2 separate regions of the Homo sapiens genome follow, and region 1 is linked to region 2. Evidence: fine-mapped expression QTL. A gene starts in region 2. The other region holds a variant in brackets. All regions are shown on one strand. Distances are from middle to middle. Region 1 overlaps AP2A2 (adaptor related protein complex 2 subunit alpha 2). Region 2 holds the start of AP2A2 (adaptor related protein complex 2 subunit alpha 2).

Region 1 (8,316 bases), 71 kb before region 2:
GGACAAGAGACCGGGCCTCCAGGACAGACACAGACAAGACGGCTTAAGTCAGAATGAAAAGCAGCCCAACTAGACAGGAAAGAGGCGAAGAGAGGAGACGTGTAGCTACAAAGAGTGTTTATCAACACTCAAACAGCAGCTGAAACATGATCGGACATCACCGTGCAGACAGGACACAACCACCACCCAGACAGTGTGTTTCTTTCATGTCCTCCTTTTCCTCCTGAGAGTAATGAACACTGCAGTCCATATAAATCAAGGTTGTGAGAGGAATGACACAGCAAACCCACCCACAACACAGCAGCTCCCGCTCTCTCCCCCAGGCAGTAATCTGGGAGGTAAACTCCGCTGCCCACCTCTGTCCAGCTGGCCGCGGCCACACCAGAAGTCAGGGGGCACGGCAGCCCCGTGCCTGTCTGCAGGACTCAGGAAACCTGACTACCTGGCAAAGTTGTCTTCGGAGCCAGGAGCGAGAGGCGCGACCACAGAGGCCGAGTCTGAGAACACGTCCACGAGCAGCCCGCTGCCGCCGGAGGAGGGTGGGGGGCCCGCGGGGGCAGGGGGGGCAGCCCCGAGACCCAGCAGGTCTGCCGACGGAGAAGGCGTAGACTGGAAGAGAAGGAAGGAGAGCATCAGCAGAGAGCCTCCCTGGCCTGGCCAACCCCAGGCAGCTCACGCCTGCACGTCCTCCCCCATGGCACCCCCTTGGCATCCATGCACTCCCAGTGGCTGGGGCAGGTGGCACACAACTCAGTGAGTGACCAGAGAGTGAGGGCTAACAGCCACTTCCTGAGTATATCCCAGACTCCAGCCTAAAGATAACTGCACTTAAAACATCAGTCATAATTTCACTAAGGCACCCTACATTTTTTCACAAATGCTATTTGAATGAAAAAAATTCTCAAAAAAATTTTGCCATGAAAGACATAAAAAAAGGCCAGACGCGGTGGCTCACACCTGTCATCCCAGCACTTTGGGAGGCCGAGGTGGGCGGATCACGAGGTCAGGAGATCGAGACCACCCTGGCTAACACGGTGAAACCCCATCTCTACTAAAAAATACAAAAAAAATTAGCCGGGCGTGGTGGTGGGCGCCTGTAGTCCCAGCTACTCGGGAGGCTGAGGCAGGAGAATGGTGTGAACCCGGGAGGCGGAGCTTGCAGTGAGCCGAGATCGCACCACGGCACTCCAGCCTGGGCGACAGAGCGAGACTCCATCTCAAAAAAAAAAAAAAAAAAGAAAGAACTAAGATCATGCATGTTACTGCCAACTGTCCAATAAGAAAGTAAGCTTCCAAAGATGAAAAAGCAAATAACTTACTCGGGTGCATTATTAATCATTAAATTATTACTAAATCATTATTAATCATTAAAAGTCTACAGAACGGATACTTTTAAAAAATAATTGCTTTTTGGCTGGGCATGGTGCCCCACACCTGTAATCCCAGCACTTTGGAAGGTTGAGACAGAAAGACTGCTTGAGTCCAGGAGTTTAAAACTAGCCTGGGCAACATAGCAAGAGACTGTCTCTGTTTTTGTTTTTTTTGAGACAGTCTCACTCTATTGCCCAGGCTGGAGTGCACTGGTGTGGGCTCACTGCAACCTCCACCTCAAGCGATTCTCCTGCCTCAGCCTCCCAAGTAGCTGGGATTACAGGTGGCCGCCATCACGCCCAGTTAATTTTTGTATTTTCAGTGGAGACAGGGTTTCACCATGTTGGCCAGGTTGGTCTCGAACTCTTGACCTCAGGTGATACGTTCACCTCGGCCTCCCATGAGCCACCGCACCCGGCCCCAGTAATTGCTCTTTGATCCTGGGGCAAAGGCACAAGGAAAGAGCGCCTATGATCTCATGATTAAACTCTCACAACAGGGCACAAGCAGCAGCTCAGTCCATCGCATGCTCACCCATCCAACAGGGCAGCAGGCTCCCCAGCAATGCCCCAGCAGCCTGACTTTGGGAGCTCAGACCTGCTCTGGGCTCCACGGGTCCTGCCCCACAGCAGCCTGTGCACCAGAGGGACTCAGATGCTCCCTATAAAAAGGACACCCAGCCTGGCACGGTGGCTCACACCTGTAATCCCAGCACTTTGGGAGGCCGAGGGGGGCAGATCCCAAGGTCAGAAGATTGAGACCATCCTGGCCAACATGGTGAAACCCCGTCTCTACTAAAAATACAAAAATTAGCTGGGTGTGGTGGCACACGCCTGTAATCCCAGCTACTCAGGAGGTGGAGGCAGGAGAACTGAAACCAGGAGGCGGAGATTGCAGTGAGCCAAGATCGTACCACTGAACTACAGCCTGGCAACACTCACACTTTGACACTATACACCAGGGGCTCTTGGTGGAGAAACCCCCCACCCAGCTAAGAGCGTTCTGGAGATGTGGAGGGCTCTGACTATCACAAGGATATTGGCATTTCACAGGCAAAAAACAGAGACACAAGACACCCTAACTTGAAGATTCGTCTTGAGTAACTTTAGAATGTTCCACTGGACATCTAAGAAGGTAAAAAATTAGTTTGTAATTATCTGAGACTCCACCTGAATGCCATTTTACATTAATGCAAAGTTAAGGTGTCACACTGTACTTTCAAAAAAACTACATGTGTGGGTTTGTGATATATGAATTTTACTCAAAGATAAATGAGGCATCACAAAGTGTGTTATGCAAAAAAGGTGCAGGTCAGAATGGGGGCGGGGGGTCAGAATGGGGGCGGGTGAGAGTCAGAATGGGGATTGGGGGGCAGTCAGAAACGGGGCAGGCTCCCAGGCTCTGCTCTTGTGACGGAGCACCTCTGCAAGAGAAGACGACACGGGTCTCATGTGCTCCAAGGGTGGGAGGTCACAGAGGAGCTGGCAGAGAAGAGTCCCAAAAATATCCAAGGCGTGTCTCGATGAGACCATCTGAAGGCGGCGCTTTGCTCCCTACGCCGGGGACAGCGCCCGCCAACACTGTGGCCTCCACAGCCTGACAAAGCTGTGAGCTGCGTGGGAAGCCATCGGCCTTGGCCATGGCCATGCACCTGCAGCCCAAATGGAGACAGTTTCTCCTCTGCATCTCATCACAGATGTTACCCTGGTTCCTGCACTGATTCAAATACATCTATGGCTTTTATTTTATTTTATTTTATTTTTTTGAGACCGAGTCTCACTCTGTTACCCAGGCTGGAGTGCAGTGGTGCAATCTCAGCTCACTGCAACCTCCGCCTTCTGGGTTCAAGCAATTCTCCTGCCTCAGCTTCCCGAGCAGCTGGGATTACAGGCACACACCACCACACCTGGCTAATTTTTGTATTTTTAGAAGAGAC[G/A]GGGTTTCACCATGTTGGCCAGGCTGGTCTCAAACTCCTGACCTCAAGTGATCCGCCCACCTCAGCCTCCCAAAGCGCTGGGATTACAGGTGTGAGCCACCATGCCCAGCCATCTATGGCTTTTAACTGCTTTCTAAAGTAGGAAAGCCCTTTGCCCTAGTAAAGGCATTTGTACCTGAAACGTTACCACAGATTGTAACAGCGAGGCCAGATGCAAGGCCCCAGGACAGTAGGGTCCTAACACCCACTTCAGGTTCTTCATCTTCCTTATCCTCTCAGGCCTGGGAGACCCTCCTCAGGGAGCAGGCCTGGCTCCTGGGCCACACCAGTTCACCTCCTCCCTCCAATAGCAGGACAACTTGAGGGGTGAAGGTTTTGCCTACAAGGGCCCCAGGCTCCTGCATGTGAAGCCAGGCAGCCTCTGATCCCCACACCCCTGTGCTCCCCAGCACACCCGGGGACACGCACACCACAGCCTCCCCCAAGGAGCTGTGTGCAGAAAGAGGATGCTCGGAAGAAGTAAAATGTCCTGGCCTCATCTATGATGTTAAATAAAAGACATTTTGGCCAATGTGACACCAAGATAAAGCCACTGTCTCTCGTGGGAAAGGCACATGTGCTGATGCCACCCTGAGGCCCCTTCACGGCCCATACAGAAGACCCTGAGCAAGAAAACTTCGCCAGGAGTGTCTCCCCATAGGGAGGGGCCTCTCACTGGGGCTCCCGTGAGCAATGGGAACAGATTGGAAAGCACAGGATAGCAATGACACCCACACACCATAGCTCTCGGTCAGAACAGAGGGGCCCACACACCACAGCTCTCGGTCAGGACGGAGGCGCCCACACACCACAGCTCTCAGTCAGGACGGAGGTGCCCACACACCACAGCTCTCAGCTCAGAACAGAGCTGCGTGCCTCGGCCACAGACACCTCCCTAAGGAACCCACCCGCCAGGCACCACTGACCATCAGGAGTGAAGCCACACTCAGAAAATCCACTGAATGAGCCCTGAAGGGGGAACTCCCTCCAAGAAGGCACCTTACAGAAATGCTGAACCTCACTGGACCCTCATCCTCCTTTTCAGAGGGCAGCACACTGCTCTCACTCCCAGGGTCCAGAAGCTTCCATCTGATCCCTAAGCCACACAGTCAAGGCCAGGCCCTCCAAAGTCCACCCTGAGCCTAGCCGGACAAACCTGGGTGTGATCAAAGGCCTGGGGTATGGGCACACCTCACTTCTCAGGACCCACATTAAAAAGAAACATCAAATAAGAACCAAAGAGAGACTGAAGACAATCCTACAGCCCCTTTCCATGCTCCCTCAGCGAGTTCCTCTTAACGTCAAAGCAGCTGGAGGGGAGCGAGAGCACCTGGTGCCTTCCCAGCTTCCAACAGGCAATCCCAGGTTTCCGTGGAAGACTTCACAGTGCCCTTGCTGAAAGCCGGCCTCCAGGAATCCCTGCACACCAGCCTCCCCTGGATCACGTCATCCTGCCCTCGCCTCCTCACCCAACTGGGGCCGCGTCCTCCTCTCTGCAGGGCGGAGCCGCTGCCGGCCCAGCACCCACGGGAAGGCCCCTGCTCCGGCAGCTCACAGACAAATCTCCACAAGCAAGTTTCTGCCTCCAGAAACCTATGTCAAGATGTCCAAAGGAGAGGGAGAGATGGATTAGAGGAGTGACAGAGGCCTGCTGCACTAGGCGCCTGGCTAGTGACGTCCCACGGGAGGAGACAGGGTCAAAAGCAGGTCACCAGCTCTACAGAGCACATGAGAAACATAAGCATGAAGGTGCTCAGGCGTGAAGGGAAGACGCCCACCTTGGGAGAAAGAGTCACATCTTTCATTCATTTCATTCACTCCAGGATGAGCTCACAGGCAATTCAAGCCTCCAGATGGCGGGCACAGCAGCGTGCCACAAACAACACAGAGAGAGGGCACGGGGGGACAGGGGCTGCACAGAGGACACTAGGTGGAGGGAGGGGAGAGGGAGGAAGAGGGGGAGGGAAGACTGCTCATTGAGATGTCAGGCTCAGCCTGGATACCAGCCCCATGGCAGGCCCTGCACTGTCGGCCAGAGGGGCAGGACACATGGTCAGCCGGGGCACATAAGCAGGTCCCCGCCAAGGAGTGCCAGGACTCCGACATGAGCACCCTCCCAACCAGCACACTGCCAGGGCAGGCACCACCACAGGAGCTCACCCCACAAAGCCCTGCCGATACTGGGTAGCAGCACTGGTTGCCACCACTGGACCTGCGTCCTGGAGAGACAGGTCCTCTAACTGGACAAACAGAAAGCCCGCCTGACCCCGACAGGAGCCCTCCCTGACAGTGCAGAGGGGAACAGCTGGCAAGCAGAGCCAAGCAAAAACGCAACTCTCAAAACGACACTTCTCACCTGACAAATACCACAGGACACATTCTGTTACAGGATTATTCTCATCGCATCACACATACAAGGAAAACCAGACCTAACCCAACTCACTACATAAAACCTCGAAGAGCAGGGCAGGACAGGTCCTCTCTAAATCAACAAAGCATGTGAGGACAGCTGCCTGGGTGAGGCAGTCCTGTAGGAGAGGGGACGGCCACTTCCCCTAAAACAAGGCACCACAGAGGATGTGTGAGCTGAGCTGGACAAGACGACGGTCTGAAGGAAGTGCCTTGCCCAGCAGGCACAGTGGCCCCCGGGAGAGGACAGCGGGGTGTGCAGCAGGGACAGTGGCCCCCGGGACAGGCCAGAGGGGCGTCCAGCAGGGACAGTGGCCCCCGGGACAAGCCAGCGGGGTGTGCAGCAGGGACAGTGGCCCCCAGGACAGGCCAGGGGGGCGTCCAGCAGGGACAGTGGCCCCCGGGACAGGCCAGCAGGGTGTGCAGCAGGGACAGTGGCCCCCGGGACAGGCCAGGGGGGCGTCCAGCAGGGACAGTGGCCCCCGGGACAGGCCAGCAGGGTGTGCAGCAGGGACAGTGGCCCCCGGGACAGGCCAGGGGGGCGTCCAGCAGGGACAGTGGCCCCCGGGACAGGACAACGGGGCGTCCAGCAGGGACAGTGGCCCCCGGGACAGGCCAGGGGGGCATCCAGCAGGGACAGTGGCCCCCGGGACAGGCCAGCAGGGTGTGCAGCAGGGACAGTGGCCCCCGGGACAGGACAACGGGGCGTCCAGCAGGGACAGTGGCCCCCGGGACAGGCCAGGGGGGCGTCCAGCAGGGACAGTGGCCCCCGGGACAGACAGCGGGGCGTCCAGCAGGGACAGTGGCCCCCGGGACAGGACAGCGTGGCGTCCAGCAGGGACAGTGGCCCCCAGGACAGGACAGCAGCGTGTCCAGCAGGGACAGTGGCCCCCAGGACAGGACAGCGGGGTGTCCAGAGCCACAGCCAGAGCCTGGGTTCTCAGTACATGCTCCTCCCTGACAGGCAAATGCTCTGCTGGTCCCAAGTCTTGGGGGTGAGGCCCTGACAGGTCTGGGTGCACAGTAGGTGAGGGACCCACCACGGCGCTGGTACTGGCTGGGGCAGGCTCAGGACCCCCGTTCACGTCCACACTCCTGTCCCGCTTGGTGTCCTCCAGGTCTGTCACCGTGCTGGGGCCCTTCTTCTTCTTGAGCTTTGCCAAGATGGAGGACTCCCGCTCCGGGAATGGGGGCATCTCCTCCAGCACGGTCGCCTTGGAAAGAACACAGGGTGGGACTGGTCAGAGCTCCTGGCCTCCAACCCTCAGCCAAGCCAGCCCGAAGGGCGGGGGCCTCCTACCAGAATGTCGGTGCTGGCCACGGTGCTGAGCCGCAGGTACTCCACAGCACGCTGCTGCAGCTCCACGTCTGCGTTCCTGAGCTGGCTGTCGCTGCGCAGCACGTCCTGGATGGTGGGCTTCACCTCCGGGAAGAGGTTCACGAACTTGATGTAGGTGGACAGGAGCAGCGCGCGGGTGGGGACGCTGCACAGGTGGAACTTGGAGTGCAGCAGGTGGAACTGGATCAGCGGGCTGGGGACGGGGAGGCACAACACAGGGACACCGTCGTCCCCTCGCAGGCTGCAGCACGCCCCCGCGGGGGGGGGACGGCGGCGAGACCCCCTGGCCTGCACCAGAGGCCGCTGGTCGGGACCCTCTTCCAGCTCCAGATCCCACCGCAAAGACGCCCCTTTCACTAAGTCAGCCATCAACCCCACGTCTCCATTTTCTACTAGAATCCCTGCTTTTTCTATCAACTGAAGGAAAACAAAAAGACGCCGATGGGGAGCAGAAGCGGCTCTGCGAGGCCTCACGGCAGGGCCAGCTGGTGCCTCGCCTCTTGCCACCGACCACCGAGAGGCCCGCCGGAGCGCACACAGCCCCGACTCGCAAAGGGCCTCTCACCTGGATCTCGGGTCTCCAGCTATCAAGTTTCCAAACTCCCCCAGGATGTAGCCGCCCACTTTGACCAGGTTCTCGTGGCACGCGGGAGCCTGAAGAGCCTGCGAAGCACAAACAATGAGCCGGGGTGGCAGCCAGGTGCCAGAGTTAAGGCGAGGCGGGCACGTCCTGGCGCGGTGCACCCTACACCAGCACCAGCCCCTCAGCTTCCTGGAGACCCCAGTCCAAGTGCCCATCCCTGCCTTCCTCAGCACCCTCAGTACCTGTGTCAGCAGCAAGGAACCCAAGGCTGCCACACGCTGACCTGCCCTGGAGGGAGCTGCAGCATCCACAACAGGCTCTGGCTGGGGAGGTTCTGCCAGCGTCCTCATGGCACACCCCTTGCCGGTGGCCTAACCCTCTCCGACGGACAGGGCAGGCCCCACCACGGCATGCCCCAGCATGCTCTCACACACACAGAGGCCGGCTTTCTCAGGTGGCCCCCAGAGAGCCAGAAGTTTGAGAGTTAGGGTGAGAAGAAACTGGGACTCAGCAAGGGGCACCAACAGTGGAGGAGCTAGAGCCTCAGGGAAGAGCTGAGGGGCAAGAGGGGTCAGCAACGGCCCTCGGCACCTCCACGCAGGCAGGCTGGAACCACTCACTGCTCACCTTCTGCAACTG
Region 2 (8,316 bases):
CCAGGTCTTGGAGGGGAAAAACTTTTTTTTTGAGGCAGGGTCTCAATCTGCTCCTCAGGCTGCCCAGGCTGGAGTGCAGTGGCGCAATCCGAGTTCATGGCAGCCTCAACCTCCAGGGCTCAGACAATGCTCTCACCTCAGCCCACTGAGTAACTGGGACCACAGGTGCGTGCCACCACGCCTGGCTAATTCTTTTTTCTCTTTTGAAAAGACAGGGGTCTCACTATATTGCCCAGGCTAAAGGAGGAAAACTTAAGAAACTGGTCAGAAAGACGCAAATTTGGAGCTGAAACAGGCTTTAACGATATTTCAGCTCAAAATCCGCCCCTTCAAGCGTCAGCTGAGGAAACTGAGGCTCCGTGGCTAGTGGCCTCCACTCACGCAGCTTTAATGATATTTCAGCTGAAAATCCAGCCCTTCAACTGTCCGCTGTGGAAACTGAGGCTCCATGGCCAGTGGCCTCCACTCATGCAGCTGCTAAGAGGCAGAGTCAGGGTCAAGAGCCTTGGCTGTTGGCTCAGAGTCCTCTTTCCACAGGGCCCGACTACTCCTATCATTCACTCTCATGACAGGAAAACAGCACACAAAATCAGAGCTGGCCAGGGAAAGGGGAAGCGGGGACCCCTCTGCCTGTGACATGGAGGTCAAGTTCAGATCAGCTCAAACCCTGGCTGGCTCTCCAATCCCGTCTCCAGGCACCAGCCAACATTCATTAACTCAATACGTATATACATTAATTATTTGCTGTTCCTCTAATACCTTCTTGGTCTTCTGCCTGAATTGCCCAAGAATCACCTTCCTTGTGAGGTCTTCTCTGGCATGCACCTCGCATGCCAGACGCTCGCCATGAGGAGAACAGCAGGAAAAATGTGATGAGCAAGATAGGGTGCGCACCTTGTAGAGGCCACCCTAGAGGGCAGTGGGGGAGATGGGGCCACTCAGGTGAAAAGCAGCACCACAAGCTGAAGACACTGCCCAGGAGGAGAATGGTGGGCGCTGCAGCTGATGAGAGGCCATCCAACAGCAATGAGGGAAAGAGGATTCCGAGAAAGGGGCCGTATTAAAGAGACCTGGCTCCCCCAGCTAGGACTAAGCACCCCTTCTTCTACGAGCTCCTTCAGGGGAGGGGCTGTGTTATTCAATGGGATACACTAGTGGTTCTCGACGGCGGACAACTTTGCCCTAAGGGCACATTTGTCAATGCCTGGAGACATTGTTCCTTATCACAACTAAGGCAACTGGTGCTGCTATAAACATCCTAAAAGGCACAGAACAGTTCCCCACAATAAAGTGTGATCCAGCCCCAAATGTCAGCTCTGCTGAGTTGGAGAAAGTCTGGTCTATATAGTCAAGTATTTTATAGAGTACAGCAGTTTCCCCATATCCACAGGTATACGTTCCAAGGCACTCAGTGGGTGCCTGAAACTTCAGATGATACTAAATCCTATACAAGCTGCTTTTTTCCCACACATACCTATGAAAAAGTCTAACTTACAGATTAGGCACAGTAAGAGATTAACAGAAGCCAATAATAAAAAAGAACTGTAATGATATACTGTAATAAAAGTTATATGAATGTGGTCTCTTTAAATATCTTATTGTACTATGCTCACCTATTTTCAGATCACCAGAGGTAACTGAAACCTCAGAAGGTGAAACCACAAATAAGGGAGGACGGCTATACCGCACTCACTGTGGTAGGCGCCATCCTGTCAAACGCAGGCCCTGGCACAGACAATATATCTGACAAGTGGGTGACTTGCTGTCTGAGGAAATGGCTTTCAATCTCATTGTCCTGCCTAACGCAATTTTCTTCAAAAATGGAAGGACAGACATCATAGCGCATTTAAGGGTACTCAGTCTTTGTCCCAGAGGTCCCCTTAAGAAATAATACACACACTTAGTTTTACAAAATGCATGTTGGTCTCATTATGTAACAAACAAAGAGAAAAAATGCTACTCGTAAAAGTGCTGATCTGAGGGTGTTTCTAAGCCTTTTTTTTTTTTTTTTTTTTTTTTGTGAGAAAGGTCTCACTCTGTCACCCAGGCTGGAGTATGGCGCGATCTCAGCTCACTGCAGCCTTAACCTCCTGGGGTCAAGTGATCCTCCTCTCTCAGCCTCCCAAGTAGCTGGGACTATAGATGTGTACACCAATACGCCCAGCTAATTTTCGTATTTTTTTGTAGAGACAGGGTGTTACCACATTGCCCAGGCTGGTCTCAAACTTCTGGGCTCAAAAGATCCACCTGCCTCAGCCTCCCAAAATGCTGGGACTATAGGTTTGAGCCACCGCACCCAGCTCTATGCTTTTTTTTTTTTTTTTTAACAGAGTACAGGAAGGGTTAGATGGTCCTCTACCCTTCCACAGAGTGTGGGAGAACCACTATCCTCCTGATCCTCCATCCCGTCTAAGGAGATGAGAATTCAAAGGGAAGATCACAACAGTCCCTCAAAATACACATTAAAAATTATGAGGGTGCCGTGGCTCACGCCAGTAACCCCAGGACTTTGGGAGGCCAAGACAGGTGGATCACTTGAGCTCAGGATTTCGAGACCAGCCTAGGCAACATGGCGAGACCCCCCCATCTCTACAAAAAACACGAAAATCAGCCAGGCATGGTGGTGGTGCACGCTTGTAGTCCCAGTGACTCCGGAGGCTGAGGTGGTAGGATCACTTGAGGTGGGAGGTTGAGTGCGCCGTGATGGAACTACTGCGCTCCAGCCTGAGAGCCAGAGCAAGACCCTGTCTCAAAAAAAAGAAAAACAAAAATCATGAAGTCAACTATTTGCTGGATAACAAGGAAAAAAATCAACGCAGCAGACAGGAAACTGGCTTTGTTTCTCCCTCAAATTAAATAAGGAGATGGCCTCTGAAAGCCAAGAGGAGGTTCTGCACACCAAAGTCAAATTAATTGGTGGACCGGTGCACCCACCCAGCCACCCTGCACATCCTTCTAACAGGCCCAGCCTTCCTGGCTTGTTTAACGGTTTGGTGTGGATTTTTCCCACCCCGAGGGGACAGGCACGGGGCTGAGAACGAGGTCTGTGATTGGAGCAGCAGGCAGCGAGGCCATCCCACACCCCGACTGCTGCTCGTGTCCAGATTCCCTCCGGGAATGAGTCATTTTAATCGTCGTAGGTGAGATCTAATCAGGGGTTAATAAGCCTCCAGAACCCAGGTCACAAAGCTGTTTCCTGGGAAGACACTGATTTCCAGATTTCTGCTCCCAAAGCTAAAATCCACGCCGTTTTGGAAAACGCTGGGTTAAACGCTCCAGTACTAGAAAGACCAAGGTGACATCATGCTGGGGAGGGGCGTCTTGGCCCGGAACCCCCTTGGTGGTGCCGCAGCCCCCCGCACGGACCAGCAAACGGGAGTGGAGATGTGGATGAAGGGCCGTGCCCTAAACCCCTAGACCCCGCACCCCTAGACCCTGGACACCCCACCCCGCACCCCCAGACCCAGGGCCCCGCTCTGCATCCTGACCCGCACCCCCATACCCGATACCCCAAGACTCTGAGCGCCGCCCGCACCCCCAGACCCTGGACCCCCACCCCGCACCCTGGCCCCCACCCCCAGACCCGGTACCCCAAGACCCCGAGCGCCGCCCGCACCCTCAGGCCCCGGGCCCCGCCCGCATCCCAGCCTGCACCCCCGCCTCGAGGCCCCGCCCCGGGCCTCCGCTCCCAGACCCCGTCTCCGCCGGCGGCCCCGGCCCCGGCCCCACGCCGCCCCCGCCACTCACAGTTGCGGATATCCGAGATGAAGACCGCCAGGCCCCGCATCCCGTCCCCCTTGGACACGGCCGGCATCTTCCGACGCTCGGGAGCGGCCTCGGCTGGCGGACCCGGGCGGAGGAGCGCGGGGAGCGGGAAGCGGGGAGTGCGGTCGCCGTCACCGCCGCGGAGGAGCCGCCGGGGAGCCGCCTAACCACGGCCGCCTCAGGGTCCCAGCGCCGCTTTCTGGGCCGCCGCGCGCGCGCACGTACGGCGCCCGCACCAGCACGCACGCGCACGCACGCGAGCGACGACGGACGGCGGCCGGGGCGGGTGTCGCGTGAGGCAGCGCGCGCGCGTCCGCGGCACGGGGGCGAGCCGGTCGAGGCAGGCGCGGGGGCGCCCCCTGCAGGCGGACACCATGGACGGAGCCGCTGAAGCCACGCGTTCGCGTCCCGGGGCCGCGCCAAGCTGGCGATGCCGCCCGCGTCCCCCACGGGAAGGGCGTGGGTCCGGGCGGGAACCCGCGTGTGCAGCGGGCCGCCTCTGTCGTTGTTGGTGGTCACTGCAAAAGAGGCGGCCACGCAGGCACACGCGTACGGCCTCGTCCTGGGCCTCGGCCCCGCTAGCTTGCCCCGAGCAGTCTCCGTTTTCTTACTTGGAATAAACGACCTGTGAGCGCTGGGCGGCGGGGCAGCTCCGAGGCCAGGGCCTTGTTTGTTCCGCGGGGGCCGGGGCGGGAGGGCGGCGCCGGGAGGAAGCTGGGGCTCCAGGCGAAGGGGTCACAGCCGCTGGACGGCCTTTGGCGAGGAAACCCTCCCCTAGCACGGTATCCTGAGACGGTGGGGCTGGCCCGCCCCTCCTGCCGCCCTGAGCCGCCAGGGCCACATCTCTTGCGGTCCCTGAGCTGGGGGCGAGGCAGGCCCCGTGCCCGACCCAGCCCAGGGTCTGTGTGGCAGCCCAGGTGCCCCCTCCACATCACCTGGGCCTGCAGAGAAACAACCACCCACCCCACCCCAGTGACAGCGGCCGGGGGCGGCAGCCCCTGCGGAATCTAGTCCCTCGGCGGCGCCAGGACTTTTGGCCACTGTTGCCAGGGCCCCCTCTGCTCCCCAGCCCTCTGCACCACTGCAAGCTGGAGGCCTAGGCCCACCCCTGTGGACACATCGCAAGGGAGGACCTGCTGGGCCAGGCTGCACAGCTCCAGGTCCCGGCCAGGAAGAGACCCCAGGGAGTGGGGAAGCAGATGGCCCTGCCTCACTGTCCTTCCCAGAGCCAGATGGCTTTGAACAGGAAGCTCCCTCCTGCTGCAGTGGGGGGATCTGGACCCTGTACCTGGAACTGGCCCAGACCCACCAGCCAGGGCTTTGTCCCCACCCTGGCTCACTTCCGCAGCCCCAGATGAGAGCTTAGCCCTGGTGGAGCCCGGCCAGGAGGAGGGCACAGGACCCATGCCCCTCCCCAATGAACCGGGTGCCGCACCCAGGCTCTGGGCCTCCAGAACTCCTGGGGAAAACCAAGATCTGTGACAGACCCCAGTCAGCATAAGGCAACCAAGTCCATCACTTCCCAAGACAGAGGCACGGAGCCGACCCAGCAGAGGGCTTCCTGGAGGACGGTACACCCCTCCGGAGTCCCTATCCTCTCCCAGTGCCACCTCCTGGCAGAGAAAGTGGTCCCGGGGCTGTTCATTCTTCAGCCTCTCCCTTCCACCAAGAAGCTTCCCTCCCCTGTCCCTGACAACAAATAAAGGCCATTCTGGACACAAGAGCATCTTGTGCCATGTGAGGGGTCCTGGGCTGCTCTCCAGGACAGTCCCAGCAGTCACGAGGACCGTCCACTAACACACGTGGGCAGAGCATGGGCTCTGGGCGTCAGGAGGCTGGCATGCCTAATCCAAGCTCCCATTGGCAGTGGCAGTGCAGAAGACCGAGACAAGCAGACCACTGTGCCCCCCCACCAGCAGCCACTCACAGAGCAGGGCAATGGGGGTGCTGCAGGGGCTGCCCACAGGAGGGCTTGGGCCTGGCAGGCATCCCCCTCCGCCCACTCGGAAGACTCCTCCTCAGTGCCAGCTCTGGGATTCCCACAGACATCCTCCCGTCCACACAAGAGTGTTTAGGGGTCCCAGAAGGCCCGACATGCAGCCATGCAAAAGACTTCCCACCTCCTTCCAGCGTCGTTGCCCTTGCAGACACGCAAGCCCTCCAGATGATTCACTCCAGTCCCAGCCTTGGGTCTGAGTCCATGTGGGCCTCTCTGACCACTGCCACTCCTCGGCTCGGGAGAGGCCAGCTTCGGGAGTGCGCAGTCCTAGGAAACAGTTTCTTTTTCTTTATTTTATTTTTTGTAGTGATGGCATTTCACCACGGTGCCCAGGCCGGTCTTGAACTCCTGTAATCCCAGCATTCCGCCTGCCTGTGTCTCCCAAAGTGCTGGGATTACAGATGCAAGCCACTATGCCTGGCCTATTTATTTATTTATTTATGTTTAATTTTAGAGACAGGGTTTCTCCCTTTGACTCCCAGGCTGGAGTGCAGTGGTACAATCATGAATCACTACAGCCTCGACCTTCTGGGCTCAAACCATCCTCCTGCCTTGGCTCCCAAAGTGCTTAGACTGCAGGTGCACGCCACCACACCTGGCTAAGTTTCTGATTTTTGTGGAGATGGAGTCTCACTATGTTGCCCAGGCTGGTCTTGAACTCCTGGGCTCAAGCAGTCCTCCTGCCTTGGCTTCCCAAAGTGCTGAGATTACAAGCCACTGTGCCTAGCCTCAGTATCTTTCTTTTTTTTTTTTTTTCTTCCTTGAGATGGAGTCTTGCTCTGTCGCCCAGGCTGGAGTGCAATGGCATGATCTCGGCTCACTGCAACCTCCACCTCCCGGATTCAAGCGATTCTCCTGCCTCAGCCTTCTCAGTAGCTGGGATTACAGGCACGCACCATCACGCCCGGCTAATTTTTTGTATTTTTAGCAGAGGTGGAGTTTCACCATGTTGGCCAGGATGGTCTCAATCTCCTGACCTCATGATCCGCCCTCCTCGGCCTCCCAAAGTGCTGGGATTACAGGCGTGAGCCACCGCGCCCAGCCATTTCTTAAATTATTTGAACGTTTGTCATACTTTAGCCACGCAAGGTCACAGTACTATTCCCAAGGGCAGAGGTGGGGACGAGTCGCTTTCCTTCATCCACAGCCATGGGGAAGCCAGGGTCCACAGATACAAGCCCGACGTGGGCATCATGAAGGGAAAACAGGCTGGGGCCCCAAGCTGCGGTGTGGAGGTGCTGTCTCACTGCAGCAGGGTTCCCCAACATATAGCCCCTGCAGCGTTAGCTGGCCATGCCCTGGGTCCTACCCAGACCTGAACATGTCTGTTTTACAAATGACCCAGTTTCCTTCTCATCATCTCTGGCGTAAGTTGCAGACAATGACCCTTCCAGAAGAGGGTCTGGCAGCATGTTCCATGTACAGTTGGTCCCTGTGCACTCATGAGAGTTCAGGGACAATGAGGTGGCATGCTCAGACCCTGTGGCCCCCCCGTGATCATCTGAGCACCTGCAGTCCCCAGGAGTGACATGCTCAGGGAAGGCTGTGGGAACTGACTGTCCCCTGCCATGGAAGGGTGGGAGGCATGAGGGGTGCATTCTGGAACTCTGCGGTGGGTGGGTGCGTCAGGTATAGCCAGCCCACCTGAAGGAGGAGAAGATGAGCTCAGGCTCCTGAGTGCTCATCACGGGGCGGGTGGGAGCTGCCATGACCACACATCTTTCTCACCACTGCAAAGCCGGAGGAATACAAAGCCATTCACAGCTGGGCCCAGACAGCAGCAAAACAGCCACCAGGGTGGGAGGTGCAGCCTCCCCAGACGTCTGGCGGGAGAGCTGCAGTGCTGTGCGGGGCCCAGAGAACTGGCATGGGGTAAATTCGATAACCTGGGACCCCAAGCCCCACTTCCCAAGAGTCCCCGCCCAGCTCAGCCCTTGATCCTGAGTCAGGCCCCAACACATCCACACCCACAATCGCACAGAGGGGGATGACTGGGCACCTGTGAACAGCGGGAAGCTGAGTTTCTGTCAACAAAACCCCACAGAACACTTGTAGGATGGCTTTTGAGACACAGGCCCCGGACAACAGCTGGGTCCTTTGCAGCACCCACGGTGTCTGGATCAACTGAGCCAGCCTGGCAGCCCAGGGTCCGTCCGGCTGCTGCTGGGCCAAATTCCTGGAAGCTACATGCAGGGCAGCCCCTAAAACATGGTTACAATGACAGAAATCCCTGGACATAATGCAGAAAAAGGGGCTCAGAGGACTCAGGGACTGAACCTGCCCAGCTTCTCCTAAGGAGACCCTTCCTGCCAAAGGCTTGGAGATGTGTAACTTGCACAAGGCCAGCACCTTCACAGGCTCTCAGGGCCGTCCTCTGAGGCTGTGGGGGTGCAGCCACATCAGCAGGCCCCCTGCTCTCAAAGGAGAAGGGCAGCTCGGGGTGACTAAGGCCAAGGAGGCCAGACACCCCACTAGGTGGCAGGGTGATGACATCATCAAGGTCTGTCCCAAGCAGCCCCTAGTACGGGTTACCGGCTCAGGGCACCCTTGGG

Evidence for each region. PIP is the estimated chance that this variant, and not a neighbour inherited with it, causes the effect.
Region 1: its variant is fine-mapped to the expression of AP2A2 in whole blood (INTERVAL, PIP 0.98).

The regions. Positions count from the first base shown.
Region 1 is chr11:992,725-1,001,040 of GRCh38, reverse strand. It overlaps AP2A2 (adaptor related protein complex 2 subunit alpha 2), which reads right to left. Exons shown (of 22, transcript NM_012305.4): 12 at 7,660-7,757; 13 at 7,056-7,287; 14 at 6,796-6,969; 15 at 443-609. Among named protein-coding and RNA genes, the nearest start is that of MUC6, 40 kb to the left of the region's middle. RefSeq lists an enhancer at 6,233-6,757. The variant G/A (reference allele first, on the strand shown) is at 3,308.
Region 2 is chr11:921,520-929,835 of GRCh38, reverse strand. It overlaps AP2A2 (adaptor related protein complex 2 subunit alpha 2), which reads right to left and starts at 3,966. Exons shown (of 22, transcript NM_012305.4): 1 at 3,748-3,966. The coding sequence starts at 3,814. RefSeq lists a silencer at 3,615-4,154.